Linked DNA regions of Homo sapiens: all the other regions are linked to region 3. The links come from fine-mapping of genetic effects on gene expression. A gene starts in region 3. Each other region holds a variant in brackets. All regions are shown on one strand. Distances are from middle to middle.

What was found. PIP is the estimated chance that this variant, and not a neighbour inherited with it, causes the effect.
Region 1: its variant is the best candidate, but not a certain one, in a credible set for the expression of ASAP2 in visceral fat (GTEx, PIP 0.85).
Region 2: its variant is the best candidate, but not a certain one, in a credible set for the expression of ASAP2 in whole blood (INTERVAL, PIP 0.65).
Region 4: its variant is the best candidate, but not a certain one, in a credible set for the expression of ASAP2 in tibial artery (GTEx, PIP 0.79).

The regions. Positions count from the first base shown.
Region 1 is chr2:9,370,877-9,378,876 of GRCh38, forward strand. ASAP2 (ArfGAP with SH3 domain, ankyrin repeat and PH domain 2) reads left to right here. Exons shown (of 28, transcript NM_003887.3): 17 at 3,879-4,068; 18 at 6,032-6,117. Among named protein-coding and RNA genes, the nearest start is that of ITGB1BP1, 49 kb to the right of the region's middle. RefSeq lists enhancers at 2,590-3,138, 3,139-3,687, 7,852-8,000. The variant G/A (reference allele first, on the strand shown) is at 3,055.
Region 2 is chr2:9,260,531-9,268,530 of GRCh38, forward strand. All of the region lies in intron 1 of ASAP2 (ArfGAP with SH3 domain, ankyrin repeat and PH domain 2), which reads left to right. Among named protein-coding and RNA genes, the nearest start is that of ASAP2, 58 kb to the left of the region's middle. The variant A/G (reference allele first, on the strand shown) is at 3,266.
Region 3 is chr2:9,203,128-9,211,127 of GRCh38, forward strand. It overlaps ASAP2 (ArfGAP with SH3 domain, ankyrin repeat and PH domain 2), which reads left to right and starts at 3,685. Exons shown (of 28, transcript NM_003887.3): 1 at 3,685-4,103. The coding sequence starts at 3,978. RefSeq lists enhancers at 2,834-3,766, 3,767-4,697 and silencers at 3,215-3,474, 3,221-3,404.
Region 4 is chr2:9,385,358-9,393,357 of GRCh38, forward strand. It overlaps ASAP2 (ArfGAP with SH3 domain, ankyrin repeat and PH domain 2), which reads left to right. Exons shown (of 28, transcript NM_003887.3): 21 at 1; 22 at 2,937-3,189; 23 at 5,705-5,839. It overlaps LOC124907730 (a long non-coding RNA gene), which reads right to left and starts at 2,831. Exons shown (of 2, transcript XR_007086203.1): 1 at 1,521-2,831; 2 at 1-68. RefSeq lists an enhancer at 7,493-8,000. The variant T/C (reference allele first, on the strand shown) is at 3,315.

The sequences.
Region 1 (8,000 bases), 170 kb after region 3:
CCAGCATGGCGAGGTCATCTCCTGCTGTGCAGTTGACACCTGCTCTTTCAGCTGCTTCATCTCACACTGACGGTACCAGCACCCTGTAATGCTGTCATATCGGTCAGTTCTGAACAAAGTGTGTGTCGTTTCTTCCAAGCACCAGGGGTACCTAACGAAAGCAGGGCATTTGGTTGTTCTGGGGCTAGGCGATTCTAAAAAATGAACACTGTCAATGTGGAACCCTTCAGTATGAACGTTCTGTCTGCACTGTAGCCCTCCTCCAGCCTTGGCACTGTTGAAAAAGAAATTTACATCCCCCAACCCCGGGCTTTTTTCAAAATGAGGGCGGATGACCCGTGTGATGGCGAAACATCAGCTACTTCCATTCCTTCTCAACTGAAATTACTTTCTTGGCTCTGTGCTCCTATAGCATTTGGCTCTATTTTAAAACATTTCATCCCACTTCATAGTATACTCAGGCATTTACATATATTTTTCTGATGAATTACTTCTTACTCATTTTGGTTTTTCCCACCGTAATATGTTGCTTCTGGTGAACCAGTGACTATTTAATGAATCAGCGAGTCAAACAAGTACTCCCAGCTCTGTGCCTGCTTAAATAAGCTAGTATTTTACTTCCAGATGAAAAGGAATACACTGCTTCTAGCTTTATTTCAGAACAGCACACCATCTGCAGATAAATCTGTTGAAGGGGAAACCAAGGACACCCTCTAGTGGCCTGTGAATCCCAAGACGGATCTTGGGGGTGTCAGGGACGTGTAACTGGGGGAGGTGGAGCAGGGAAGCTAGGCTTGTATTTGCTCACAGGAGCCAGAACTGTTTCTCCCTGTGACTTGGGACCATTATACACACCCTGTCCTTGAGAAGTGTAAGGAGAGCCCCTCCTCTGAACACCAAATGTATCATTATGTTAATTGTTTTTCTGCAAAAGCCTGTCATTAAAAAAAAGAGGGAGGGCCGGGCGCGGTGGCTCACGCCTGTAATCCCAGCACTTTGGGAGGCCGAGGTGGGCGGATCACGAGGTCAGGAGATCGAGACCATCCTGGCTAACACGGTGAAACCCCATCTGAGGGATCACATTAGCAAAGCAAACCTCCTTCACAAAACCAGGGGGCATGTGTGGAGTTAAACAGACCTGTGCCCATGTTTGTGTAGGAGCTGCCTTCGGGGCCTCCAAGCCCTGGGCAGATGAGTAAATACATTAAAAAACAAGTAAAGGAAGTCCACTTTCTCTCTATCCCTTTCCTGTGGAGGTCGCAGTAATGATTGTCCCACAGTGATGATTGAAAGTGCATGAAACTGGACAACTGTCCAGTCTAACTGCCTGTCAGAAGAGGCATTTACATCATTAAATGGGCTGCCCACCATGACACTCGCCAGGCCAGGAATGGAGCATCTCCCTGGGTGTCACACTGTGCTGGAGGCCCTAAGAGGAGAACCTGCAGGAATAAAATGGGTCTTCCCTTGTAGGCCCACCAGCTGCCTGAGGAAACAGAATCCAGTTTCCCTTTATGGACTTCAGTGTACAGTAAATCCTGAATGTTCCAGAAACTCAAAGGTTTCTGGAAACCTGTGACTTTAAGCAAAATGATGTATAAGAAACCAGTTTTACCCTATGCCAATTGATGTAAACCAGAGTTCAGTTCCTACCATGTATTTCTGATCATGAGAACATCACCAAACTTTTGAATAAAGGCCCAGAACACTTCTAATATTAAACATTGAAATATGAGCGATGCATACATTTAAGAAAGATTCTGGCTACTAAGTGGGATAAAGAAAGATCATAAAAACCAGTAAGATAATGATTCACCCACTTATTCCAGTTCAGGGTCAGAGGTGGCTGGAGCATGTCCTGGCAGCTGAAGTCCAGGGTGGGAACAAGCCCTGAACAGGACCCCGTCCCACTGTGGGACGCAGTCACACCCACGTCCACACTCAGTCGCAGTGGGGCCTTTGAGACACAGCAGTTAGCCGAACGTGCACAGCTTTGGGATGTGGGGGAAACCGGAGTGCCCAGAGAAAACCCAGGTGGACTCCACACAGACAGGGACCCTGCCTGGGAATTGATTTTTTTCTTAACATTATAACAAAATGCTGTTATTCGAGGGCCTGTTGTGCCTACAGGTGGAGATGAAAACTCATGGCACTGTTGAGGGAACCCACTGAGACCACGTATCTCACACACAAGTCAGCCAGCACCGCAGTGAGCTCAGTGCACGGGTTAGCGCTGTGTGGACGGGGAGCATGTGCCGGGGGACGTTGAGGCACCCGCCTTAACCTAGGCCCTGTAGAGCGGGCAGAACTGGAGCCGGAGCAGGAGGGAGGCAGTGTGATAAAAGTGCCAGAGCACAAGTTCACCAGGTGCCCCTGGAAGTCCTTCCTGGGCTGTGAAGCATGCTGCCTGCTCAGGTGGAACGGGCACCCTGGGGCGTGATTTCCTCTCCAGCTGCACCAGCCAGCCTCACGCTGCGGCGTGTCCAGGAGCCACATGCACCCAAGGACAAGCAGATTTGAGGCCTGGCAGACGCTGGCAAGAGACCTCTGCCCACTCAGTTCCGTCTGGGTGCTGTGGGAGTAATGGCTTCTCATCTTAGGCTGGCCCATCTTCAAGGGACCCCAGGGTAGACAGGATCTCTACTCCCTGCCTCCAGTGGCATGTCCAGGGAGCTCAGGCTCCCCTTCTGGGGGGCCAGTTGTTCCACGGGGATTTAGGGCAGGTACAGAAAAGTCAACAACTGCTCCAGCAGCCATGGCCCCTTGCCATAGTCAGCTGAGTGAGAGAGCGGAGGTCAGGAGGGAACCGTGCGGGGACTCCAGCTCGAAGGGGAGCAGCCGCATTTGTCCTCAGATTGTAGGCAGTGCTGTGTTACAAATGGATGCAACTGATCTGCCCCTGCCTGGCTCTTGCCTGATTCTCAAGATTCAAAGAGTCCCTGGGCAGTGACCCTCAACCTTCAGAATTGGGATTGTAAAATGCATGTACTCTGTGACCAGTGAGCTGCTGTTTCGCTCTCCCTCTTGTAAGTTCACTGGGTCTTTCCAAGGCCC[G/A]GGACCCACTGTGTGTGCTGCAGGTGTGTTGACGCACATACGTCTCATGGTGCTACTGTGAGGATGTATTGTGTGCATTTTCGCAAGTCAGACTTACAAGTCTAGAGAGATGAAATACTTATTCAAGTTCAAAGCAGCAGTGTGTGGTGGGAGTGGGATTTGAACTCAGGCTTCTTTGGCCCCCTTTTGTTCCTGCTTCTGTAGGCTCTTTGGATGGGGCGGAGTCTGAGCATGTTGCCACATAAAGGCCAGAAAGTAGAACACAAAGAGGACTGCCATTTCATTTCAGTTCATCTGATAGTGCCTTTCATACCAGGCATGGTGCCTACAAAAAAGAGGTCATAGTCCATGCCCCAAGGAGCTCATGGGCCTGTCGGGCAGTGAGGCAGGCAGGCCTTCATGTAGAGAATGTTGGAACAGAGGTTGGCCAGGGCTGCATGGAGGGCAGGGGCAGGGCCTTCCTGGGGGAGGAGGCGCAGGGCATGCGGATTGGAAGGACCTGAATAAGAAGGGTGTGGAGGTGACGAGGGCGACAGTGAGGTCAGATCACAGAACTTAGGAGTGAGGGGAGGGAGACAAGGCAGAGAGGCGGGTGGGCTGAGAGAACATGGGGAGTTGTCCCCCTGGCCAGTTCCCAGGAGGTCGCAGTGAAGACCAGTGCAGCCGTAGAACCACATGGCGGCCACTCCCGCTTTGTGTTTCGGGGCCAGCGGTGCTTACCAGGGACATGGCGCAGGAACCGTTAACATGGCCTTAGACAAAGGGAGGCCGGACGGCGGGTAGAAGCCCTTCATGATTTGCAAGGCAATTACGTTTGGTTTCAGGAATGCAAGAAAGGACTACATCACAGCCAAGTACATCGAGAGGAGATACGCAAGGAAGAAGCACGCGGATAACGCGGCGAAGCTTCACAGTCTTTGCGAGGCCGTCAAAACGAGAGATATTTTTGGATTGCTCCAAGCTTATGCTGATGGTGTGGATCTTACGGAAAAAATCCCACTGGCCAACGGACATGTAAGAGTGTGGGTTGTTGCTACTTTAAAAAAAAAAAAAAGGCCGGCCACGGTGGCTCATGCCTGGGATCCAGTACTTTACTTCAGGAGGCCAAGGCGGAGGATCCTTTGAGCTCAGGAGTTTGAGATCAGCCTGGGCACCATAGGGAGGCCCCATCTCTACAAAAAAAAAAAAAAAAAAAAGTAAAATTGGCCAGGCATGGTGGTGTACATTTGTAGTCCCAGCTACTCAGGAGGCTGGGGTGAGAGGAATCGGTTGAGCCCAGAAATTTGAAACTCCAGTGAGCCGTGATTGTGCCACTGGACTCCAGCCTGGCCGACAGAGTGAGACCTTGTCTCAAAAAAAAAGGAAAACTGGGGCACTGTGGCAGGTCTGTGGAATCAGCAGTACTGACCAAAGCTGGGTAATTCTCCAGAGGAAGACGGCACGGAGAGGGGTACTGGGGTAGAATAAACTAGGGTTTTTTCTTTTCAGTAGGAAAATAATTGTATCTATGTTCATGGGGTATGCTGTGATGTTTTTGATCTATGTTTACATCATGGAATGATTACATCAAGCTAGCTAACATATCCATTACCTCACAGGCTCATCCATTTTTAATGGAGAGCACATTTAAAATCGACTCAGTTTTGAAATAGACGCTATGTAGTCTTACCTGGAGTCACCAGGCTTTGTAGTAGATCTGCAGGATTTATTCTCCTTGTCTAAAACTTTGTACCCACCTAGTGGTTTATTCTTACACCAAAAATGTAATGCCAGCTCTGGAAAGAAAACCCATCTCCAGGTGGAGGAGAAGACATCTCAGAAGCTAGGCAGCCTGAGAGGGACCCCTCATCTGCAAGCAGGTTTAACCTGAGCTTCATGCTAACGAGAGAAGCTCTCTGAGAGGGGCGGTTCCCTGGAACCCACACCCCACTGTGCTCCCCCTCAGAGGGAATAGAGTAGGAGCAAGACCCCTCCTTTCCTGGGGGAGCTGTCTTGAGAGGGTGGGCATCCAGCTGGAGTGGGTTTGCAGTAACATACCAGCACCCAAGTGGGGTGGCATGTGTCCAGATTCTGGTCCACAAATACCCTGTAGATGCACATTTGGTCCCCTGGAACCTCCTGACCTCAGGACTGGGCTGGCTGCCTATCAGCAAGGATGCCTCACGGCTGCAGCATCTTTCTCTTGGTAACAGGCATGTCCGTGCAGGCTCTGAGCTGGTCCCACTCTCTCCCCATCCCCAGAAAGAACTCATGCCCACCAATGCAGTGTGGAGGGTGCCCAGCACTGAGCTGTGCTGCCGCCAGAGGGCCCAGCAGGCAGGGCAGGCGGCCTGGGAAGCACCTTCCTTTGCCCTCACCTCCTGTCTTCTGTATCTGTCCTTCTCCTCTGGTTCTCTCACCCACCCACCTGCTGAAACAATCCTTGTTCATCTCTTCTCCCCCACCTGCCAGGTGTACTTTCAGAAAAGGCAGTGGAGTTGGGGAATCCCCAGTATGAGTTGGAGACAGTGCAGTTATTAGCATTCGTAGCCTTGTCTGTAAGTGTAGAACGCAAAACTTTAAGCCTGCTTAAGAAACATATGTTTCTACTCAAGGAGCAGGTAAAGAGATTGGATTGTAGGTGGCCTGGGGGACCTTCCTGGATCCTTTGAACAAGATTCTTGCTTGCAGGCAGGGATCTGCCTTGTGGTGCTGATGCAGGGATGGGGACAGGTCGATTGAGAGGACTTAGAAATGAAACTCCTGAACTTCTCATTTATTTCCCATGGAGTCAGGAGAAACAGGACGAATCTCCAAATTGCACGTTCCCAAGGGCAAAGAGCTTGTGTAGAGATTAAAGAGACTCTATGTAAGAGATAAGTTTCTCGAAGGGAAAGATAAAAGACTTTTGGAAGAGTTGTACACGATTTCACCGGTGTTGGACACAGAATTGAATGCTCCCATTAGAATTCTGGAATGCCTTTGTTTGGTTTTTCAGGAGCCGGATGAAACGGCCCTCCACCTTGCAGTCAGATCCGTGGATCGAACCTCTCTTCACATTGTAGACTTTTTAGTTCAGAACAGGTAGGTGTTCTGAAATTAAGGGAGGCACTCGTTTTCTCCTTGGTATTTCTGGGGAAGGAATCGGACGCTGCCTCATCGCTTCTGATGTGTTGTCAGGAGAACCTTCCCAGTTCTAAACATGAATTAAAGACAGAAAAAGGACTGCCAGGTGTGAGGTACTCCATGGCAATCCTTTAAAAAAGCACTAGAAACTCTTTTGTGGTAATTGCAGGGTCCAACTTCTAGTGTCTGGTACTCAGGGAGACACCAAGTAGATATGGCTACTGAACTTGGGGACCCCATGACCACCCTCTGTGCACAGGGGCCGTCCTCGCCTCATCCTGTGAGCCAGGTCATCGTACTGCGCAAGCAGTGTCCTGAGCAGTAGGGAGGTAGCAGGCAAGGAGGGATCCACACATTAGCCATGGTCTGAGCCAGAGATTAGAAACCAGAGCACTGGATTATGGGTGTTTTGTTTGGGTCGAGAAGTTGTTTTTATGCTTTGATTAGAAATGGCCTTTAGAGATGTGCACAGGCAGTTTACCACAGATCTGGGAGTCCCCGTGGTTTGGGGCATATTGCTTCAGTCATGTGTTACCTGCCTGGCAGCTGAAGGCTGGACTTCAAGACCCCTCAACGTGTATTTTGACTCCCTGATCGTGGTTTGAGCCATGTGTGTACTGGAGGAGGAGGAGGTGCTGTTAAAAGCCACAGAAATTGCTCCAAAGGAAATGGAAAATTCCAAAATGCAAAAGCCATGGGATAGTTTGCATTTTGTGTCCTCTGCTTTTTCCTCCCATTTCTGAGCAGAGGAGTGAAGAAATGGCCAGAAAGTAGGGGAGTGTGGGGTGGTCAACCCCAAGACCTGCAGCTTCTTCCTGAGGAGGCTGAGTTCACTGGACTCGTGGTGGAAGCTGCCCTGATGCCCCATCTCTGAGTGCCAGCCCGGCTCCTAGAACGCAGCAGGGGTTTCGTAAACATTTGGTTGATAGCTGCGTGATGCCTCTCCCTCCATGCACATTTTCAGGGGGCAGGAGAGGGAAGGTCCCAGTTTCTTTTTTTCCAGAGTGGAAGGAGGACAAAAGTGGGGGAGAATTCTGAAAATGAAACACACCCCCCGCTCCCCATGCCCACAATTTGGTGAAAAAGAAACTCCTTTTTTGATATTGAAAATGTAATTGGTTTCCTTCTCATGGAAGCAGCAGGTGCCACTTCCTGAGATCGCCTTTCTGTCTCCACTTTGTGCAGGGGCACAAAGCTCACTGCCCCTCCTCAGAATGTGACAGTGGCCATGTTTGCTAGGATTGAGGGCCTGTCCCATGTCTGCCAAGCCTGAGCACCTTTTGTGGGTGACCTGGTCTTGTGATATGTTGGAAGAACTTTTGAAAATCTCAAGATTCCCCTTTAGCCTGTTTTCAGAGGGTATTCCCAGGGCAAACAGGCCGAGGAGCCTGGGGACTCTGGGCTTTGGGAAAGTGACTTTTCCCTTTCCTGGAGGGAATATCAAATAATGATAGAGAAAAGCTCAGCCTCCGTCCTCCCGTGGGACAGGATGGATGAGTCACACAGGCATCCAGAGGCCCTGCATCCAGCACAGCTGGCCGGCCTAGCACAGCAGCCTCGGCGCAGCCAGTGGGACGTGAGAAGGACGCTGGGCTCTAGGTTCACCCCGGTAGTGCACTGCCCCACCTTGGCCCCACATGCTCAGCAACAACAGGGATGCCCCCCTCCCCTTTTGACCTCTTCTGCCATCATCGTGTTATTTCCCTGATGACCTTCTGCTAAGGCTTCCCCAGCCATGTAGGCAGGGACGGTGCCAGGTCCCACCACCTTGGCGATGATTTACAGAAACCGTTCACTCGGGGACTGTCTGCCTTTCCTGTGCCCGTAGCCCAGGCTCCCTG
Region 2 (8,000 bases), 57 kb after region 3:
AGGCTCTAAAAGGCACATGACCTTGTTTGCATCGTCACACTCCTTTTTTAGAAAACAATCTCTGCTGCATACAGAGGTTGGCTTTGTGCAGGGCCCCAGCAATCCTGGTGGTTCCTTCCTGCCTTTCTTCTCCCTTCCCTATTCTGGGTTTTTCTCCTCCCTGCTTCCCATTCTACCATAGGGGAATGGGGTCAAGTCTTTTGGATGGGAAACAGGAACTGAGAAGTTGAAGATGGAGAAATGAAAGACTAAAGATAGCAGGGTTTTAATTTTCCCTCTGAAAAGCCCAGGAAGAGCCCCGGATTGTGTAACCTGGACACATGCAAATGATGACCCTGCCCCTACTCTATCTGCTTCTCCGCCACCCTGGCCCTTCAGAAGATTCTGAAACAAGGAATTGGTTACCCAGGGTGGTTAGGGGGGTTGTGCCTGTGTCCCTGGTGAACTTTAGATTCTTGTGCCCCTGGTGAACTTCAAATGCTAGTGTGCTGGGAGCCGTATGACAGCCCCTTGGGGTGGCAGGAGCTGGCTTGTGTGGAGGAGAGCCACTGGCAGCTTTCTTGGTGAAGGGGTGGACAGCACTCTTGGTGTGGAAGTAGCAGCCCCCTTGCCTGTAGCTGGGCTGGGGTTAGTGGAACAGGGTTTAGAGAAAGCAGGGGTAATGCCGGGTGGTTATTTTCCCCAAATGTTAGAGAAAGCCAGCGCTTCTGGCTCTGGAAGTGAGGCTGTTGGGAAGTGGGAGGGGGAGCACAGCTCTGGAAGCTGCCTTCCGTCCTCCCTCCATTGGCTGGAGCTCTCCCAGCATTTCATCGGTTCAAAGCCAAACACATGATTTTGGACAAGTCACTTAAACTCTTTGAGTCAGTTTCTTCTCCTTTAAGCTGGGGAAAGAGGTGGTGATTTCACAAGTGGTTGTAAATATTGCAGTAAAGATAATGGAAGTAAAAGTGCTCTGTGGAGTGTAAATTGCTGTATGGTAGTTGGAGTTGGGCCCTAGGTGTGATTTTAGAGTACACACCTACTGCTGCCTTGGTAACTTAAAAGTATTTATCTCAAATGCTAGTGAGCTGAGCTGAGTGGCACAGTAGGCCTTTCTTTCCCTGGGAGCACTTTGGGAGCTTTGGAGGTTGCCCAGTGCTGCCCCCAACCTTTAACAGTGTGGCCGAGTGTAGGAGGGAGGGGGCAGAGTTCCTTCTGGCTGGACTGCCACATGCAGGGGAGAGGCCCCGCTGGTGGTGTCCCAGGTGGGAGAGGGGCAGACCTGGGGTTACCTCAGTCAGGGTAGGTGAGGAGGGGATGGGTGGACACCCCGGTGGCCACTCCTACTCACCCCTGCACTTAAGACCTGGGGTTTCATGCCCTGCTCCTTTAACCCTCAGTGTTCAAGAGAGAGGCCAGTTGGACCAGAGCGCCTCACCCCACCATTTGCCATGTGCCCCTCCCCGTGGGGAGTCAGAAACACCTGAGCACACCAGGAAAAGTTTTGAAAAACAATGTTTTTAGAGACAGGGTGTTGCTACGTTGCCCAGGCTGGACTCAAACTCCTGGGCTCAAGCGATCCTCCTGCCTCAGCCTCCTCAGTAGCTGGGAATGATAGGCGCGTGCCATCATGCCTGTATGAAGTTTTGAAAAATTTAAATGTTGATGGAAAAAAAAATGTATTAGTGGAAATGAAAGGCTGGTATAAGCTGTAAAGTCTTTTTGTTCTTAGAGATTTTTTTCTCATTCTAAACATTATCAGACCTGAAAAGTATTTGTCGTAATGACTGAGACGGTCCTGGGGTAACAGCGTCTTCTTAACGGCCACTTTAATTGGCGTAGTTTACACCTAGCCTCTCCGAGAACTGGAGGACACTGGTAATCACTATTAGATATTGAGTGCTGACTGTATGGCAGACACATAAGCATTGGTGATCTCCTGTGAGGCAGGTATTGTTATTCCCAATTTATAGATGAAGAAACAGAAGTCAGTGAGGTGGAGTCCGTTTTTGAGGTCACGCGGCTAGTAATTGGAGCCTGGTTTAGAACCAAGTCAGTCTCATTCCAGAATCCAGAACCAGTGATTTGTAACTGATGCACTTGTCTCCAAAGGGATCCAGCACTGGGTTTTCTCATTTTTAATGCATCCATTCCTTAAAGCCTCTGTTCACAGTCACAAGGTGTACTTTTTAAAGGAACACAGCACACAAATGTGACCGCTAGTGGACAGCAGTGGCAGCCCAGTTGGATGGCAGAGCCTGGCATGCCGACTGGGACAGAAGCCCCAGCACACGGTGTGATGATGGCGTCTCCAGGCTGACCTCCATGGCCTCAGGAATCAAAGTCCTCAGTCTCTTTCACGCGGGGTTCAGAAAGAAAACTCGGCTATCTTACATCTCCTCTCCCCTGTTTATTTGACTAAAGTGAAGTTCATGTGGCTTGAGCCTCGTTTCCTGGGGAAATCAGCCTGGCTTAGGATTCCATTGTCTTCTGGGACTGGGAAGATGTGGAAGGCTGACCTCACGCCCAGCTGAAGGTCACCTTCCCAGACTCTGAGCTCGGCTGCCTTCTGCATCGCCACGGCTGGAGGGCCTGGCCCAGGCCGTGGCTGCATGCTGGCTTTCCACTGTCTCGGTGTCCCTGCTGCCTGTCAGTAATGTGCCCAGCACCTTCTGGTGTCATGTCCCCTCTTGTTTGTGATTCTTTTCCTGAGCTAGTCCATTTTCTACCTCGAGTCTGCTCTCCTGCCATTCCCAGGGGCCACAGCTCAGTAATGTGGGTGTCAGGGAACCCCAGGCCAGGCCCCCTTGTGCCACTGTGGCTCTCCCCAAAGCAGGGCACCAGGCTGGCTGGGGGGGTCCTGCCCAGAGCTGCCCCACGCTGCCGTGTTTGTGCTGCTGCTGTGCAGTGGTGATCTTGCCAAAATGTGGCTTTTCCTTTCTCACTCCCCCAGAGCTCCCAGAAAAGTCTCTAGGACTTTTCTTCCCCCTAAATAAAAGTCAGGATGTGAAGCCTTTTGACAGAATTGGAGTTTACTGTCATCTGTTTCCGTTTCTCTAAGATAGGGATCCTGGCGAAGCCCATGAAAGCCATGGGGCGCTCCCACCGAAGCCTCCGAGGCACAGACCTCCCGGGAGTGCCTGTGGGCGCTGCTTCCTTAAACTGCAGGAGGCTGCAGCCTCTCGTTGTTCATGCGTCGTTTTTTCATAGTGTGTGTGGGTTTAGAGCTACATGGGTTCTTTTCTCACTTATCTGTTCATACCGCATGACACCGTCCACTTCAGGC[A/G]CAGTTGACGGCCGTCTGGAGGTCATCAGCTGAGGGCACAGTTTGCCTGGTTCTTCTATAATAGGTTAAGTATTTTTTTCTCCATTTTTTTCCCTTTTAAAAGTACTGCTAGAAGGCCAGGTGCCGTGTCTCACACCTGTAATCCCAGCACTTTAGGAGGCCAAGGCGGGCGGATCAGTTGAGGTCAGGAGTTCAATACCAGCCTGGCCAACCTAAGGAAACCTCATCTTTACTAAAAATACAAAAATTAACCAGGTATGGTGGTATGCACCTGTAGTCCCAGCTACTCAGAAGGCTGAGGTGGGAGGATCACTTGAGCCTTGGAAAGAGAGGTTGCAGTGAGCCAAGATCACACCACTGCACTCCACCCTGGGCAGTGAGTGAGACCCTGTCTCAAAAAAATAATAATAATAATAATAATAATAATAAACACAAGTACTGCTGGAACTTCTTTGCAGAAACAACTTGTGGGGAAGGAGGGAGGTATATTTTAGTATTTGGCCTTGGGAAAAGGTTTTGCTTCTGCAGGCATGTCTTCCAGAGACTGGGGGGGCCCGTGCTGGCGTCACCACTGTCCCCTTCCCCATCAGGAACCTTCCTTCCTTGGATGGCATTTCCAGTGTGTCCGGGCCTCTGCTGTTCTCATTATGAGTCCCCAGCTCTGACGGCCACTGTGGCTGATGCACAGGGTGTTGGAGACAGTGATTCAGCCCAGCAGGCTGTATTCATGTGCTGTTCCTCTGTACACCCAGAGCTGTCTTCTCGCTCATCATTTATTAATCTTTCCCATGCAAGTCATACGTGAATATATCCTTGTGGTAAAGTTTTCAGGTGATAGCGAAAACTCAGTCTCCTGTCACCGTCTTCTCTCCTCATCTAGGTGCGCGCTATAACTAAGTCCTTTGCCTCTTCCAGAGTTTTTTTCTCCCTGTGTACCATTGGCCCTCTGCACTTGTGGGTTTTGCATCCTCGTGTTCAGTCACATAGGGTCTCAAGGGGAAAATATTCAAGAAAAAATATCCAATAAAAACTAATACAGCAATTTAAAAAATACAAATTTTGGCCAGACACAATGCCTTATGCCTCTAATCCTAGCACTTTGGGAGGCTGAGACAGGGGAATCACTTGAGCCCAGGAGTTTGAGACCAGCCTGGGCAACATAGGGAGACGTCTCTGCAAAAAATTTGAAAATTAGCCGGGTGTGGTGGCATGTGCCTGTGCTCCCAGCTACTCAGGACGCTGAGGCAAGAGGATCACTTGAGCCCGGGAGGTGGAGGCTGCAGTGAGCCGTGATCACACCACTGCACTTCAGCCTGGGGGACAAAGTGAGATCCTATCTCAAAAAAATAAATAAATAATGAAAAATACAAATTTTTAAAAATACAGTGTAACAACTGTTTACATAGCATTTACATTGCATTAGATATAAGTAATCTAGAGATGATTTAAAGCATGTGGGAGGATGTGTGTAGGTTACATGCAAATATGACAACATTCTACATTACGAATTGAGCATCCTTGGATTTTGGAATTCAACGGAATCCCGGAATTAATCCCCCATGGAGACCGAGGGACTACAGTTTTGAGTATTTTTGTTTTATTGTTTAATCTGTCCCTTTGACACATTTTTGTGCTCAGAGTTAAAGACCTCAATACCCTGCTTGATGGGAGGAGAAGAGAAAAGGGTAACAAAGTATAGGATAGTACTTTTCATTTTCTTTAATTCGAAAAAATTATCAAATAATGTATTCATGTTAATGATAGTTTAAAAGTGGGAAAACAAAAAATTCCTCCAACTTTTCCTAAGACAACAATGATTATTTTCTTTCTGTATCTTTATATACAGAGTTTTAAGTGTTTGATATATCACTTGTCTATCCTCTTTTATAAGTATTTTTTTCTTTGCTTTTACAATTTGTGTGTGTGTGTGTGTCTGTGCGTGTAATGGATTTAATAAACAAGCTTGTGATTTTCATTTATGTATTTATTTTTTTGAGACGGAGTTTCACTCTTGTTGCCAAAGCTGGAGTGCAATGGCACGATCTTGACTCACTGCAACCTCCACCTCCCCGGTTCAAGTGATTCTCCTGCCTCAGCCTCCCGAGTAGCTGGGATTACAGGCGCGTGCCACCATGCCCAGCTAATTTTTTGTATTTTTAGTAGAAGCGGGGTTTCACCATGTTAGCCAGGCTGGTCTTGAACTCCTGACCTCAAGTGATCCACCCCCCCACCCCCTGCCTTGGCCTCCCAAAGTGTTGGGATTACAGGTGTGAGCCACCACACCCAGCCCATAAGCTTGTAATTTTCTATTTCTGAAATTGGAATTTTTATAAAAACGATTGCCTTTTTATCTTTTTTTTTTTTTTTTGGACACAGGATCTCACTCTGTTGCCCAGGCTAGAGTTCAGTGGCACAGTCATAGCCCACTGCAGCCTCGACTTCCCAGACTCAAGTGATCCTCCTGCTTCAGCCTCACCAGTAACTGGGACCACAGGCACCTACCACCACACCCGGCTAATTTTTTTACTTTTTGTAGAGATGGGGTCTCACTGTGTTGCCTAGGCCTGTCTGAAATGCTTAGGCTCAAGTGGTCTGCCCACCTCAGCCTTCCAAAGTGTTGGGGTTACAAGCATGAGCCACTGTGCCAGTTGCCTTTTCATCTTCTGCAGAGCTGCCTTACTTGTGTTTTGTCCTCAGTGCTGTTCCTGTGCGGGTGGTGGGCGTCTGCATGTACACAGGCCAGCTTCCCTCACTGCTGGGGGGCCTGCAGGTCTGGGTGCACCTTGTTACCCAGGCTAGCCTTCCTCTGCAGAGGTGTGAACTCTGCCACCACCCCGTTCTAGTCAAGATGGGAATGGAATCTCAGAAAGGAAGCCATCTAGGAGAAAAATGAAAGAAGTGTTTCTCTTATGTTTGCTGCCGTCAAAGTTGCTACTTTAGGAGCTCAGAAAAACAGTTATTTGTAAGATGGATTAAGTAAGTAGTTTAGTAAGATTGCCCAAAACCACCTCCCAGAGTTAGTGGGAAGCGCCTGATGCTGGGGAGAAAAGCCCGAGGCCTGAGCTGGCCGACCTGCATTCAGTTTCCTCTGTCTCTAGCTTCTCTCTGATGGTTTAGAAATGGTACTAAGGGATTCCTAAGTCCCTTTTGCTTCCTGTGGTCAACCAACATGCTAGGCTAATAAATTACTCCTGAAGTTCACTTTCATTTTGGCAACATTTTCTGGTTCTTTCGCCAACTCTAATTTCTTTTCTTTAAAAGATGCTTTAATTTTACTTGTATTCTTAATAATATATCTTATATATACACACACATAGCATTAAAAATTTTTTCAATGAGATTTTTTTAAAAAATTCAACTTTTATTTTAGATCGGGGGGTACATGTGTAGGTTTGCTACGTGGGATATATTGCATGATGCTGAGTTTTGGGGCATGATTGATCCCATCACCCAGGTACTGAGCATAGTACCCAACAGTTAGTTTTTCAGCCTCTCTCCACATCTCTCCGCTCTCTAGTAGTCCCCAGTTTCTATTGTTTGTTTCTTTATGTCATGAGTACTCAACATTTAGCTCCCACTTATAAGTGAGAACATGCAGTGTTTGTTTTTTTGTTCCTGTGTTGATTTGCTTAGGATTAGGGCCTGCAGCTGCATCCATGTTGCTGCAGAGGACATGATTTAGTTCTTTTTTATGGCTGCGTCATATTCCATGGTGTATATGTACCACATTTTCTTTATCCAATCCACTGTTGATGGGTACCTGGGTTGATTCCATGTCTTTGCTATTGATACAAATGACATTTAAAGAATGATTATGAAGGCCACGTGCAGTTTCTCATGCCTGTAATCCCAGCACTTTGGGAGGTCAAGGTGGGTGGATCACTTGAGGCCGGGAGTTCGAGACCAACCTGCCTAACATGGTGAAACCCCCGTCTCTACTAAAAATACAGAAATTAGCTGGGCGTAGTAGTGCACACCTGTAGTTCCAGCTACTCAGAAGGCTGAGGCCTGAGAATCGCTTGAACCCAGGAGGCAGAGGTTGTAGTGAGTCGAGAATGCACCACTGTACTCCAGCCTGAGCAACAGAGCAAGACTCTATCTCAAAAAAAAAAAAAAAAAAAAAAAAAGAATGATTATAAAGCCTGGTTTTGGCCAGCACTCCAAGCGCGCCCCGCAGGCCTGTCCCATCGTAACGCCCTCAGAAGCTTCCCCTGCCCTGACTGCAGCCCTCAGCTTGCCTCAGTTTGTAGTTTGCCAACAAGGTGTATATCCCTAAACATAAACAATTTAGTTTGGCCTGTTTTTGAACTTTTTATACTGCATGTATTCTTTTGCTCAACATTTTTGTCAAGTTCACTTGTGTTGTGGGGTAAGTTTGTTCTCTTCCGTTGCTGTGTAGCATTCTGTTGTACGAATGTCCATCATCAGTTTATTCATTTTACCATCGACATTTCGGTTTATCCAGTTGGGGGCTGTTTTGAGGAGTGTTAGGACAGCCTGTCCATGTCTTCTGTTGTGGATGTATATTTACTCTGAGTAATTTTAATTTTTTAAGATAATACCAAAACACGCCCTTCTCATCTGTCCTTAGGCACACACTTTCCTCAGCTGTGACTTAGCTCAGACGTCTATTTGATCTTAATTCTTAGCGACACCTGCTATTCTTCAGGCCTGGCTTTATTCCCACAAGGGGGGAGGTTCGTTATTGCTCTGGCTTTAAACGGAGCCCACAGGT
Region 3 (8,000 bases):
AATAAATCTGCTTGTTATCTAAATCTACCATCTTAACAAAATGACCACTTTCTCAAAAATTTAGCTCCCAATGGCATCTAAAACATGCCTCATTCTCAAAAGTCTAGGACAATAATTAGAGTCTCAGTACTAATGTTTAGCAATGCTTTGTGGCATTTTTCTCTCTTGTGTCTAAACTAACATAAAACACAGAAAATGGCAGCACGAACACCAGGACACCAGGACGGGGAGGCGCCTTAGAAATTAGCTAGTCCAAGCTACACTCTTTAGGGAGGCTAGCTTTATTTCTTTTTCTTTTTTTTTTTTTTTGAGACAGAGTCTCGCTCTGTCGCCCAGGTTGGAGTGCAGTGGCCGGATCTCAGCTCACTGCAAGCTCCGCCTCCTGGGTTTAGGCCATTCTCCTGCCTCAGCCTCCTGAGTAGCTGGGACTACAGGTGCCCACCACCAAGCCCGGCTAATTTTTTGGATTTTTAGTAGAGACGGGGTTTCACCGTGTTAGCCAGGATGGTCTCGATCTCCTGACCTCGTGATCCGCCCGCCTCGGCCTCCCAAAGTGCTGGGATTACAGGAGTGAGCCACTGCGCCCGGCCTAGGGAGGCTAGCTTACTTATCACAGAGAAGCAATTTATTACCAAAACCCAAGTTTTCATTTGTAAAATAGTTTCTGGGTGCTAAAGTGAGATAACTGTGGTAAATGTACTCAATCTTCTCTCACTTTGGGGATAAATGGGTCCCTTCAGCAACACGATTTTGGGCAGAGTATTATTAAGTTACGAAAAGAAACTTTCAGTTATACTTCCATGTTCACATCACCAGGGTTTTTAGGTTGTTGTTACTATTTCTTACCATAGTTCTTTCAAAGCACATATTTGCCCATTCCAAGAGTAATCATTTACAAGTTAATAGCAAGTGAACTGGACAAGTCTTGTGTAAACCAGCCAACCCTCAAGCAAATTTCAGAGTCAAGAACATATTTTACACCTTGATCTGAGAGTGATAAATCCCAGGTTCTTGTGAACTACTAGAGGCAGAAGATTCCTTTGGAAAATGGGCTGTTGGCCAATCTCACTGGGCCGCTAAAAATTTCATTTTTGGGAGGAGAGTCTCTTCTCTGGAAACGATGTCTTTAACATCACGTTTTCGTTCTCTCCTTTTCCTCTTCCTTTCCTTCTCCTTCTTCCTTCCTCCTTTTTCTTCGCCTTTTTTTTTAAAAAAAAATAATACAGGCCTACAATCTCTTACTGAAACCCCAAGGGCCAGATATGTGTGGATTCAGAAATTTTCGGATTTTAGAAAGGTAACACATTGCATATAATAACATATTCCTAATTACCCCCAGTAGGGTCTGGGGCAATACTTCATAATCAACCATGTTTATATTTTGCAGCAAAACATACATATTCACATGAGGTAGGATAAACAAGACCACACATAGCCTCACATCAGTTCATTTCAGATGAATTTTACTATTAAGAACTATTTGTAAAGCTACATTTTCAGGGATTTTTAGTAATTCTGGTTAAGGAAGTATAGGCCTGTAAGGACATTACCAGCATACTCTTCTTCTCTTGATGCATTTAAAAAAATGAGTATGTGTAGAGTGTTTCCTTGATCCATGTTGAACTTTAATTTTATTGTTATTTATTGGAAGCTACTCATTCTTATATTAATCTCAGAAAGGCATTAGCTATGTTTTGCTCTGGTCTTGCTTTAATTCTAGGCTTATGCAGTAGGCAAGTTAGATTTCTAAGGGATGATGGAGGAATAAATGGCTCTAGCATTCTACCAATTTGGTATCCTCTTTAGGCCACCAATGAACTTGGTAACTAATTGTTGTTTTCCACCAGCCTTGCAATGCAACACAGCTTTGCAATTTTATTTTTTTGAGGCTACTAAAGCTTCCTGTATCTGCAAAATTAAACTAAAAGAAACAAGAACCGGAGTTGTATATAAAGAGAGAACAGAGAATACCAAGCTTAACTTTGTCCTTGTAGAAGTATTGATTAGTCTGGTTAATGCTGTACTAGACATCAAGGAAAAACCCGACTTTCTTTCTTAGATCCCTCATAGCCTCATAGAGACCAGCCCTCTACAAATCAAGACTTGAAAAGTTATTCAGCATATTCCCTCATGTCAAAAACTGTAGCTGGGAAACTAGGTAGGCGGGAACAGAATCTGCCTGGTGTTGGAGAGGATGTATTAATATAAATAATAAACACAAAACATGAATTGTAGAAGGTTGCAAATAGAGGAAAACTTCAGACACCAAAAGGATCAAAAAACATAAAAAGAAACAGATACAATTTTTAAATTGTAACTTGTTGTCTAGTGCAATGATAAAAGCTATCCACGAATACAGCGATTTTAGAAAGTTAAATTTTACATGCAGTGCTACTAAAATACCAAAGGCCATACATAATGTCTGACCCAAGCTGCCACCTCATATAGCAACTTCTTACATGGGGGCTTTAAAAAGATTGTTTGACTGGTCTACTGTCCTGCAGTGTCAGGAGACGGCTTTGTCTGACATATTGAATTTCCAGTGTCTCTCACACTTCCTCCTTTTCAGATGCACAAAAGGTTTTTGTAAAGTTTCTCTTGGTTTTACCGCTGGCAGCTACAGAAACCATGCCACAAGTCTGGTGTAGAGTTATAGGGTGTGATTTTATTTGACTGGTATCTTCAGAGCTTCTGGATTTTTCAGTATAACCGAGAATTTCCTTAAGAGCTGTAAATAAAAATCGGTACCAGTTCGAACCCTTTACTGGCCCGGTTTTGTGTGAGGTTGGCTGGCTGCTGTAGCACGTTCTCCCCCTCCTCCTCCTCCTGCACCCCCTCGGTTCCCTCCTCTGCCTGCGGGAATACCACTTCAGGGCGTTCAGCAGCCTTCCCAGGGTGGGTCCTGGCCTAGTACCCTAAAACTATAACCGAGAATACCTATCATTGGGCAGCCTAGGAAACGCGACTGGGACTTTTAGTAGGGGCCCCTCACCGCTCTGAAGCACTCACACTTGAGTCAGGGAACATGGGTTTGAATCCCCACCCGGCCGTTTATCTTGTGCTCTTGGGCACACTGTGTCCCCTATATAAAATAAGCACCCATCTCTTCATCTGTCTCCTAGGCCTGCGACGATGCAATGACTGCACGCAAAGCGCACATTCACGGTCAGGTCACTTCTGGCGTCCGGCTGTGGTCCCCGCAGGGTGCCCGCCGGCGGAGCGCATCCTCCGGCAGGGGGCGAGCTCCGCACCCCGCTTTCCTCATGGGCCGGCGCGGCCCGCCGTTCAAGTGGGGAGCCCAGAGGTGCTCCGCGCCGTGGGCGGGGGGCGGTTGGCGCGCACAAGGCCGGACTCCGGCGGGGCGCACCTCCACACGCACCCTCGCGGGCAGCGGGTCGGAGTCGGGGCCTCGGGCCGGCTGGGGGCGGGGCATGGGCGCGGCGCGCGGGGCCCGGAACGCCGAGACAATGCGGCGCGCGGCGGCCAGGAACGGCTCGGCGGGCCGGGGCGCGCGCCGCCTTCCTTCCTGCGGGATCCGCTTCCCGGCGGCGCGGCAGCGGCGAGCGCGCCGATTGGCGGCCCGGTCCTCCCGCCGCCCCGCCCCACGCCCGGCCGGCCGCCGCCCCCGGCCCGGACCCGCCCCTCTCCGCGGGAGGCGTCGGGGCCCGCGGCTGGGTGGCGGGTAGTTCCCGCCGGCTGTGCGCGCCCGCCTCGGGGCTCGCTCTGAGAGGACGCGGCGGCAGCGGACTCGGAGCCCTCGGCGCGCAGGCGGGCGGACCGGCCGAGCTGCGCGGGGCTGCGCGCCGCCCCTGCTCCGCCGCCAGGCCCCGCGCGGCTCCCGCGCCCGGCGCTCCCCTTTGTCCGCGGGCCGGAGCGGCGGCGGCAGCGGCGGTGTCCGAGCGGCGGTCGGAGCCTGCTGCGGCAGTTGAGGCGGCGGCGCCCCTGCGGCTGTGCGCCAGCGCCCTCGCGCCGAGGCGATGCCGGACCAGATCTCCGTGTCGGAATTCGTGGCCGAGACCCATGAGGACTACAAGGCGCCCACGGCCTCCAGCTTCACCACCCGCACGGCGCAGTGCCGGAACACTGTGGCGGCCATCGAGGAGGTGAGGCGGCCTGCGCGGCGGCTCCGGCCGCAGGTATCCCGCGCCCCAGCCCCGCCCGCCGCTCCCGCATCCGCATCCCGAGAAAACTTTCTTTGCTCCGAAGCCGGACGCGGCCGGGCCAACCCTGCCCGAGACAGAAGCCCTTTGTTCCCGCCTAGGTGGCTCGGAGGAGATGGGTGATGGCCACCTTGGGCCTCTTTAAGACCTCCCCTCTCTCGGCCTCGTGGCCCTCGCGGGGTTCCGCGGCCTGGTCTTTTCCCCGCAGCGCGGCCAACTTTGTCCAGAGTCGGGGTCCGCGGCGAGCGGGGGATCCCGCTGCCCGCCGCCGCCCGCCGCCGCCCGGGGTCTTTGGTACCCGGTGCGGACCTTATCAACTTGTTCTTGAAGTGGACCGGCGGGGGCAGCTCCGCGCTCCGAGCTCCCCGCCGCAGCCCCCGAGCGCCGCAGGGCCCCCACCCTCGGGTCCGCGGGTCCGGGGCATCCCGGGCTGCCCGGGAAGGCGTGCCCGCCTCAGCCAGGGCGGCCTGGCTGCGCTCCACCCGTGCCCGGAGAAGGAACTGCGGGCAAGGTGTGTGAGAGTCGGCGCTTCTGGGTCCAAGAAGCCTCCAGGAGCCGCTCCCCGGTTACCTGGGTCTCACCTGCTTGAACCCGGAATGCCGCCCTTCCCCCTCAACCTGGAAAAGGCCTGGTTTTAGTAAAGTGCTCTCAAGGTGCAAAGTCATCACGCCTAGCTGCTAAGCAGTACGCTCTCCAGGTCCTGGGGAGAGGAACACGTAGGAACGAAGAAGCTTGGTTGAAAATTAAAGCCGTGGGGAAAGGGGCAGAGTCTGTGAGTCCAGGGGCCACCGTTGGCTGTGGTTTGAGGCACATCCTCACCTGCAGTCCTCCTTTTCCTTACCCATCAAACGGGATTAGTAATGCATCCTTTCCAGGATCAGAGACTGTGTGAAGTGCTTAGCACTCTGCTCGGCTCAGAATAGGTTTACAAGTCACACGTGTGGCAATAGTGAATCTGTGATTAAATGTCTCTGGGCCAGGATGTCAGGTTACAGTTTTAAAATTGGGTATTGCAGGTGTTTTAGCAGAAGACGCCTGGGCTAGCAGGAGTGTGTGTGTGGGTGGGGGGGTGGGTGTCACCAAAGAGCTTTAAATGAAGCAATGGCGTTATTTTTTTTTTCTGGTTTTTTTTTTTTTTTCCCATTTGAACAAAGCATCTGCTATTAGGAATTGCTTGAAAAAAAATCCAGAATGTTTTCCCTTAATGGAAAAATTTTTTCTTTGTAGCTGTAAACAGTCAATAAAAGGGAGTCAAAAGTAACATTCAGCATTCTGAATCCTGTTAATATAACTTGGGTAGCCTTCCTTCTCTCCATTTAATTTGGCGGAAGAGAGCTGCATGTAAACCTTTCCTATGAATTCGGTGATTCCCCAGATCACTTAATTCTACTTTTAGCAGCAAGGCTTACAGATGATGCCTTCAAATGAGGCAGATGGGGATGGGTGAATGAAATTTTTTCCTAAGTGCCAGTTAAAAAGCACGGTGTTTTGAGAATACACCATTAATAATGTTTATGGAATGATTGCAACCAAAAAGGTAGCTGAATATTTCTTAAGGGAAGGAAGCATTGTGCATGATGTCTTTCTTTAGAAAGCTTGATTATGTTTAAAGTTCTGTTGCTTTTCCCCACTGCAGTTTGTCAGTTAAATATTATTAACACTGGCAGATGTTGGAAAGCCAAGCAAACAAGAATTGCTATTAAAATTGGCATACCTTTCTCTGATTAATTTTAGTTTACAGTGTATAATTCCAAAGCTCTTTTTGTATGCTGTGCAGGAGATTACCCTAGAGCTCAGTTACTGAGCAGATTACAAAGAGACTGGATTTGGTCATTTCATTAAATTGCAAGCTTGCTTCATGCTGCCGTCTAAGCCCAAGAATTGGTTCAAGTCTCAAAATGGAAAAATTAAAATCATTTCAGGTTTATTTCACTTTAAGCAAATCTACATACATGCTATGATGATGGTATGTGTGAGCTTGGTTTTATAACTAAATTTGAAAGTTGTTCACTTTCTGAGGTAAATCAATGTGGATTTCTTTAAATAATGCTCTTTCCCAGGTGTCTAATGTTCGTGTCTATTACCAAAACTTGTTCTATGTATGGTTTAATAACAATTGATGTGTACAGTATTTTGGTTTTAAACAAAAATCTTCTCATACTGAGACGAAACATGAGAGGGTATCATGACATAAAGTTACTCATTTAACAAATAAATAAAATTTGCAAGCTCTTGGTCTTATGTTTAAACAAATGAATCACGGAACTAGCAAACTAATTTTATATTTATTTATTTATTTGTTACGGAGTTTTGCTCTTGTTGCCCAGGCTGGAGTGCAATGGCACAATCTTGGCTCACTGCATCCTCTGCCTCCCAGGTTCAAGCGATTCTCCTGCCTCAGCCTCCCAAGTAGCTGGGATTACAGGCATGCGCCACCATGCACAGCTAATTTTTTGTATTTAGTAGAGATGGGGTTTCACCATGTTGGTCAGGCTGGTCTCGAACTCCTGACCTCAGGTGATCCACCTGCCTCAGCCTCCCACAGTGCTGGGATTACAGGCGTGAGCCACCACACCCGGCCAGCAAACTAATTTTAAACTGATTAACCTTTTTGAATCTGTTATTTCCAATGTAGGTTCTATCTGCCAAAGAATCATTTTACAATTAAAATGTGCTGTTTTGATTTGCATACTTGTTGCTGGAATATTATTATAGTAACTGTTGGGCCCTTATCCTGTACTATGAAACTCACAGGTATTGAATTCAGTCCTTATCTCTGCTTTATAGGCGAGGAAATTGAGGCTCAGAGAGGTTAAGTAATTTGCCAAAGGTTATAGAGCTCTGAAGTGGACTTTGAACTTGGCTCCTGCTGTTTTCAGAAACCATGCTGCTTCCTGTTACTTTTCTTAATGCCGAATTCTCTAAATTACTCCTTTGTCAGATTGACCTGGGTTCAAGTTCAGGCTCTACAGCTTGCCAGCTGAGTGAACTTGAGTGAGATGCCTAACATTTTCTTATTTTCCTCAGCTTTAAAGTCTGGTTAATAATACCTATCAACTTCAGAGGATTGTGGTGAGGGTTTAGGAAGATAGTACATAGCACAGAAGCTGCCAGACAATTAGTTACCAGATTATATAGTTAGTGAGTCCACAGGCCCCAGTGAGGGCTTTTGGAGTGAGGATGGGATTTACATGGGGGGAAGTGTCAGGGAAATGGATGAATGGCTGAATGGGTGAGTGAATGAAACACTACCGTGTATCTGTTAACCCATGTGTTTTTTTTTTTGAGATGGAGTCTCGCTCTGTCGCCCAGGCTGGAGTGCAGTGGCTCGATCCCCACTCACTGCAAGCCCCGCCTCCCAGGTTCATGCCATTCTCCTGCCTCAGCCTCCCGAGTAGCTGGGACTACAGGTGCCCGCCACCATGCCCGGCTAATTTTCTGTATTTTTAGTAGAGATGGGGTTTCACCGTGTTAGCCAGGATGGTCGATGGTCTAGATCTCCTGACCTTGTGATCCGCCCGCCTTGGCCTCCCAAAGTGCTGGGATTACAGGTGACCCATGTGTATTTTTTAAAAGTTTGTTGTCAGGCCAGGTGCGGTGGCTCACGCCTGTAATCCCAGCAGTTTGGGAGGCCAAGGCGGGCAGATCACTTGGGGTCAGGAGTTCGAAACCAGCCTGACCAACATGGAGAAACCCTGTCTCTACTAAAAATACAAAATTAGCTGGGTGTGGTGGCGCATGCCTGTAATCCCAGCTACTTGGGAGGCTGAGGCAGGAGAATCACTTGAACCCAAGAGGTAGAGGTTGCGGTGAGTCGAGATCGTGCCATTGCACTCCAGC
Region 4 (8,000 bases), 180 kb after region 3:
GGTCTGTGCCAGGTTGCTAACCATTAAGAGTTTTGATCAGCTTCATCCAGAACAGTGTGGGTCCTAATCTGTAATTAAGGCAGAAAGCTGTTTTATAGAAATGAAAATGTAGCTTACTTTATGCTTTCATTGATCTCAGTAGGCTCTTGGTTTTACCCTTCCCACTACCATCTCCTGTCTCCCAGCTCCTGCACCCATTAATTTAAAGGAATGGCTAATTATGTACTTATAGGCAGCCTTTTGCTACAAAGGAAAGGTGTGTGTGGCGGGGGGGTTGATTCCAGTGGATTTAGAGGAAGGTCTCTTGCTATGGAGTCATGTCATAAAGAGCCAGATTTCCCCCAGTCTAGGTGATCACATTCTCCTGGTTGATCTTATAAAAACATCAACTGAAATCATCAGACGACCTTTAGAGCTCACTGGGTCCAACCCCTTCCTTTATCAGTTTGGGATATTGAAGCCTCAAGAGAAAAGTTGACTTGGCCAAAGTGAAGCAGCTATTTAGAGGCAGGCTTGGGACTGCACGAAGGCTCTTGCCTCCTCCTCCAGCTCCCTTCTTACCATCCTCACTGCTTCATACGCAGGGGTGAGCCCCAGGAAGGTTGCTGCCTTCACGCAGGACTTGGAGCTGAGAGTCAGACTTAGGCCTTGTGACCCAAAGCCCTGGCTCCTAGCCGCGACCCACTTCCATCTGTCCTTCAGCATGGTGCTTCGAGGCATGTCTGGAATGTGCTCTGTGCTGAATTAGTGGCAAATGCCACATTAAACACATTTTCATGGTTTGGCTTTTTTTTTTTTCTGTAATGCATTAATGTTCTGATGTGTATTGAGGATATCTAATTAGATGGATGGATAGGTCAGTAGGTAACCAGATGGCATTTCTGAAACCTGTTGGACTGTCTGCTCATGGAGTTAACATCCATACTTAACTGCTTCTTAGAATACAGAATAAGAAATTACTTCACTGAGTTAGCTACAAAACACTGTCAAAGTGAGAAGAGTTGACTGATTTCATACTTAACCTGCCTTAAAAAAAAAAAGCTGGAAGCAGTCTGCCCCAGCCTGCCTCTTCATCAAGCGGTCAGATGCCACATTCCCATTTGATGAGCAGTGATGAAGCAGGTTGCATAGTCCAAGGAAAAGCACAAGAGCAGGGGCTGGTGTGGAGTCCTAAGACTCATCCACGCTGCTCACCTGATTCTCAGCAGACAGCAGCCGTGGGCTTTGCAATTTAGAAATATGTGTGAAGAACCACTGGGTGCTTAGTTCTGCACACCTGAGCTGGGTTTGAACCATTGGTTTGTCCAGAACCTAGAAAGGGTTGGTGGTCCTGTGAGGGAGAGGCAGGGCTGCCACAGTTCATACTGAGCACCTGCTAAGCACCTGGCATTGTGCTAGAAAAGCACTCGTCATATCCAGTGAACAGACAAGAATGTGGTCAGCAAGGTTGAGTCATTTGCTCACAATCATACCTAGTTTAATGAAGCTGGCATTTGAAATAGAAGTTAGGTCTAAGTTACCTGAGTCATCATTCCATGCATTCACTTCCAAGAAAGCACATGACCGGCCGAGCGCGGGGGCTCACGCCTGTAATCCCAGCACTTTGGGAGGCTGAGGCGGGCGGATCACGAGGTCAGGAGATTGAGACCATCTTGGCTAACACGGTGAAACCCCGTCTCTACTAAAAAATACAAAAAAATTAGCCGGGCTTGGTGGTGGGTGGGGGGGCGCCTGTAGTCCCAGCTACTCAGGAGGCTGAGGCAGGAGAATGGCGTAAACCCGGGAGGCGGAGCTTGCAGTGAGCTGGGATTGCGCCACTGCATTCCAGCCTGGGCAACAGAGAGAGACTCTGTCTCAAAAAAAAAAAAAACCATATAACCTTCAGGGGGGAGCAGGGGTGGCCAAACTCTTAAAGGGCCAGATAGTAAATATTTTAAGCTCTACGGGCCTAAAGCGTCACAGTCCATGTTAACAATTACTCAGCTCTGCCAGGATGGCTCAAAAGCAGCCTTAGACAGTATCTAAATGACAGGACATGGCTATGTTCCAATAAAACTTTACTGACAAAAAACAGGTGGTAGTCCATAGGCCACTGTTTGCTAACCCTAATTTGGAGGAATCTCAGGAGCTCCTGTTCATATGGGAGGAAAACATCGATCTCTGCTGAATGAGCCATATAGCTGTTGGAGATTGAGTGCAGCGGGCTGGCCAGAGCTGGCCACCCTGTGGGGTAGCATAAGAAGGCATGTTTGGGAAGGGGAACTTCAGGGAAAATGCTGACTTAGGTTGAGATAACTTCGACTCATAAGATAAATAGCTTATATTTTAAATCCATCACAGAATGGAGAATTTTAACCTGTAATTAACAGATTTTTTGGTATGTGTGTGTTTACTAGTCAGTTCTTACACTGCTGTAAAGAAATACCTGAGACTGGGTAGTTTATAAAAGAAAGAGGTCTAATTCACTCACACCTCCACATGGCTGGGAAACATACAATCATGGCAGAAGGGGAAGCAGGCACCTCTTCACAGGGTGGCAGGAGAGAGAGCAAGCGAGAGCAGGGAAAACTGCCTTATAAAACCATTAGGTCTTGTGAGAACTCACTATCCCAAGAACAGCAGAGGGGAACCGCTGCCATGATCCAGTCACCTCCTTCCCTCGACAAGTGAAGATTACAATTCGAGGTGAGATTTGGGTGGGGACACAAAGCCAAACCATATCAGTGTGTGTTTCCTTCACGAGACACAAGGAGGAGTGAATTTTCACTCTTGCAGCTCTCACGCAACTTGTAGCTCTCAGGCAACAGTTGAGAGCTCAAATGGTACCAGGCCCAGCAGAGTTGGTGTCAGTGAGGTTTTCACCCCTGTGTTGAATGTTATCACCAGGAGCAGTTCATATTTGTCTCACACGCCTCTGCCCCAATGTTCTCCTGCAGCCCAGTCCCAACCGGCGGGAAGACCGGCCCATCAGCTTCTACCAGCTGGGCTCCAACCAGCTTCAGTCTAACGCTGTATCTTTGGCCAGAGATGCTGCAAACCTTGCCAAGGAGAAGCAGAGGGCTTTCATGCCCAGCATCTTGCAGAATGAGACTTACGGAGCCCTCCTGAGTGGCAGCCCACCTCCCGCCCAGCCTGCAGCCCCCAGCACCACCAGCGCCCCCCCGCTTCCTCCACGGAATGTTGGCAAAGGTATGAAGCTGTCCGTCATCCCTGTGAATATATAGAGGGTCTTGTTTTGTGGTTTGGGAAGTTTGCAGCTGCCCTGCCTCCAACTCAGTGACCTTTGGGCTCTTTTGTTTTGTAGTTATTTTCTG[T/C]TTGCTTCCTAAAGGGATTCCATCATTCTTATCAGGCCAGATGGTGGTAGAGTCTCTTGATTTGACTCTTATTCTGGGCAGAGTTGTGGCATCTGCCTGGCTTGGGTAACATGGGAACTCCCCCAGGGCAGCCTGAGGTGGCCAACTGGGCTCCCGGGGCTGGGCCAAAAGACACACTCCTTCAGGTCTCCCCTCTGCACCCTTCTGTTTACCTTTCTCCACTCCTTCCCAGGCCTTCATTCTTCCTTTTTATTTCTCTTCTGCCTTCATCTGGTCCAGCTCATGGCCCCTGCGATTACTTCTTACCCATGATCCCCATAAAAGATATTGGGGAACGATGCTCGGCCTAATTGTAAAATACAAAACCAGCCCTGTGGGCCTACCAGTGTCTTAGGGCAAAAAGCATGCTTTTCTTACCTCAGCTGTAACCTGGAGGTTTTGACTCAACAGGTGACACTTTCTGTTTTTAGAAATACGCAAACCAAAGCTCTCAGAAGTTAAGTAATTTGTTCATTCCTGAAGAGCAGCTGGCTACGGTGCTTCTTGAAGGCAGGTCCGGCGAGTGACCCACTCAGCTCTGGGCTGAGCTCCAGTCGTGGCCATGGCCTTCAGAGGGTTTCCCACATGAAGGAGGCTGCTGAGACTTTGATGCGGGGCGGGGGGCCCAGGAAGGACAAGAGTCTGCACAGAGCATGTATCCAGGCATTGTGGCCGCTGTGAGCCGCTGATGGAGTGGAGCCCACGTCCCCAAATACATCCCAAACTGTCCTTATGTGGTAGCTGCTAGCTGGGCAGGCTGGGTCGGTGCGTGAGGGTGGCTGAGGCCGGGAGACCTGGCCCAGGGCTGAGCAGACGGCTGCAGCTTTGTGCTGCACGTACACTCGGCTGTGCTGCTGGGCCCATCTTCCCTGCCGTCCTGGGTGTCTCACAGACCCTCACACGGCTCTGCCCCTGTCATTCAGGGAGGCCCAGAGAAGTGACAGTGAACCTGTCATGTGAGTCACTGAGTCATACCCCGAAGAACAAACCTGCTGAGAGCAGACCTTCCCCCAGGCAGGCCCAGAAGCCAGCTGCTTGCTGTCCCCACACAGCCCACATCCCAGACCGCGTCCATCCCTGGCTTGATGAGGACGTCCCTGAGCACAGAAGGCAGCTACAAGATGAAGCCACACAGTCGCATCTCCTCCCTGTCAAACCCCCAGGCTGGCTGGTCGGGGCCCAGGGTGGGTGCGGCTTTCTCCCCGCCTCTCCCAGATCCTGCAGGCAGGCATCAATTTTCTACGGCCCACAATCAAGATGATTTTGATCATCCTCCTTCCCAGCAGTGGCTTTTGCTGACTGTGTGTGTCACGGGAGGAAAGATTTTATTTTGTTCCACTGGGTCATGGAGGGGTAAACTCTTAATCTCCTGGTTTCCCGAAGTCTTGGAATTCAAGGGTTTTGATTTTTTTTCCTTTTTCTTTTTGCCGTTCCTGTCCCTAGCATCATTTCTTCTTCCAGTAATGTAGGTCATACCCCTTACCTGCCATCTCCACCATTCTCTGTGTAGCCCACATGTGGTCTTGGATGGAATTCTCACATGCAGATAAATAGCAAATGGAGTTGACAGTGTCAGCCTTGCATTTGGGGCGGACCTGGCTCCCCAGGGGAGGAGCTCGAAGGCTTCCTCTGGACCCAGTGGCCTGGCCCATTTCTAGGCCTAGCCTTTGCCCTACAGGCCGTGCACAGCCTCCAACATGGGGTCACACCTAGCACCTGGGCCCTGTGCACCTGAGCTTGGAGGTTTGTGAGGCAGAAGAAGGGCTTGTGACCTGGAAAATGCCATCTCTTGTGGGTCACCTGAACCTGATTGGTGTCATCTGTGTCTGCTTCCAGCCAGAAATATGTTTGCGGGAGGGAGGGAGAGAGAGCCCCTCCTCTAGTGTCTGATTTGCACTCTGCCCCCAACCTGTGCCAGCTGGGCACACGGTGTTCCTCTTCACATGGTGGTGACTCCCACAGCCCATGGGAAGGAGTCGGTGGGAGGGTGGAGAGGAGCAGAAGTTCCAGAAGCTCCAAGTGCAGTGTTCGCAAGAGAACATTGTGACTGTTTATTTCCTTCTTCAAATGATACTGATATTTGATAAATAAACTCAGGAATTTTAAATTTCATGGATTGAGAAAACCTGCTGAGAATAGTCCTTGGAGCCTCTTCGGTTTCGCGAGTATCAGTGTCTATCTTCCACATGCCGGAGACAGGAGTAAAAGCATTGAGGGTTCTAGGTAGAAGGGTCATACTGACCGTTTCATAAGGGGGAGGATCAATAACGCAGTGTTCTGTTTCTGTTTTTGTTCGTGTGTGCACGTGTATGTGTGCGTGCATGCGTCTGTGTGCATGCGTGTGGGTTCAGTTCAGACAGCCTCCTCTGCTAACACCCTGTGGAAGACAAACTCTGTAAGTGTGGACGGTGGAAGCCGGCAGCGATCTTCGTCAGATCCGCCAGCTGTCCATCCACCGCTGCCCCCTCTTCGCGTGACATCTACCAGTACGTTTTTTTCCTTTTTCCTTTCTTGCCCGTGGGCTTTGTAGATCTGGATGGCGGGGGGTGCTCTCTGGAGCCACACAGCTGCCAGCACAGACACGTGCCAAGTGCCCCGTGTTGTATGGCTCCCTGTGGCTCTTGTGCAGGGCTCTCAGCTCCCCCAGCCTCCTTCGTCACAGCTGCAAACCCCTGCCTGTCCCCACACTGCACCACCAAGTAGCTTCCTCACTCCCTTCCTCTGTCTTCCAAAGCATTTCAGCAACATTTCCTCCTTTACACAGTACCCCAGGGTTTCTTTTTCCTTTGGCCATTTGGTGATTTTCAATATTTTGGGGACAGTCACTTGGATTAGAATCTGGCTTTTTGTTTTTCTTTTCTTTTTCTTTTTTTTTTTTTTTTTGAGACAGAGTCTCACTCCATCGCCCAGGCTGGATGCAATGGCACAATCTTGGCTTGCTGCAACCTCTGCCTCCCGGGTTCAAGAGATCGTCCTGCCTCAGCCTCCCAGGTAGCTGGGATTACAGGAGCCTGCCACCATGCTCAGCTATTTTTTTTTTTTTTTTGTATTTTTAGTAGAGATGGGGTTTCACCATGTTGGCCAGCCTGGTCTCGAACTCCTGACCTCAGGTGATCCACCTGCCTCAGCCTCCCAGAGTTCTGGGATTACAGGCATGATCCATGGTGCCCAGCCTTGTTTTTCTTTTTAAGACAGGGTCTCTCTTTGTCCCCCAGGCTGGAGTGCAGTGGCACAATCATGGCTCACTGCAGCCTCCAACTCCTGGGTTCAAGGGATCCTCCTGCCTTAGCCTCCTGAGTAGCTGGGATTATTGGTGCAAGCGTATTTTTTGTAGAGACAGGGTTTTGCTATGTTGCCCAGGCTCGAATTCCTGGGCTCAAGTGATCCACCCGCCTTGTCCTCCCAAAGTGCTGGGATTACAGGTGTGGGCCACCACGCCCAGCCTGGCATGTTTTCTTTAATATCAACATGTGGTTGAAAGTCCTGAAAACCTTGGGTAAAGAAGCGGGAGGAGGTTTTTAGGAAGAAGTTTTTCTCCAGTGTACAGAACTAAAGTCTTTTTTCACTGGATCAGAGAAGCGAGCCCTGGATGCTGCCCTGTCTCCTGCTGCAGCAGCCCTGGAGTGGGGAGTCCAGCATCTCTGGGCTTCATTGCTTCCAGAGCATGAGAATTCTAGAGCCGAGGTGCTCGTGACTTCCTTAGAGTAAGTTAAAATTAAAAGCAGCCCAGCCCCAGCTAGAGTCAGTGCCATGTGTGCACATGCCGGCAGCAGAGCCGGGAGCAGTGGGTCTGGGAGGGTCTTCAGAGGTTTCCAAGGCGAACACACCAAAGGCCAGAAGGAACCACTTTCCTGCCTCTCCGTCTGGTGGTCCAGGGGCTGCATTTGTGTGCTAGAGTCAGACTTTTGAGTTTTCCTTTAAATTGGAAAAAGGAAACAATAATGATAAAAAGAAAGATCATAAGCTGGATCCCTTCATGTTTCCCCACGCCAGTTTCCTCTCTGTGTAGCTGAAGGCCTCATTCTTCCTGGCTTTTCCTGGCAGAGGGAAACCCAGCGCCTTATGTGTTACCCATCCTGAGGCCCAGTATGATAAGCCCGACATTTAGAGAGGGCTTAATGCCTATCAAGGGAGGAGAGACGGAGGAAGGAGACTTGGACTCACAGCCTCCCTCCAGGTCTTACCAGCTCTGCCACCCTTGACGAGAGCTCTTCCCCTCCGTGGGCCTCAGCCTCCTTGTCTGTAAAACGTAGACACTAAGAAAGCTCTTCACCCACCCACTCCGGAGACTGAGGAGCCGTTACTAAGTTAGTAGCTCCCATCTCTCCTCAGATCCACCCTGCCCAGCAGCCCGATGAAGTGGGTAGGGCCTCATCCCTTTGGCCACAGGTCAGTCGATGTGCAAAGCAGGCCCTGCTTCCCCGGGCAGAGCTGAGGGCCCCGGCCTCCTGCTGTTGGGTCTTTGAGTGGAGAGCAGGAAACTGCTGGCTTTCCCCCAGGGAGTTCTAGCTGAGAAAATACTCACTCACAGGCTGATAGAAAAATTGTCATCCTAACTTTAGGCTCCCAGCTTCCTTATTAGTTTGGAAAGGACTCCCTGCTTCCTCCCTGTGAATGGTTTTCTGAAAACTGGCAAGGAAATAGCAG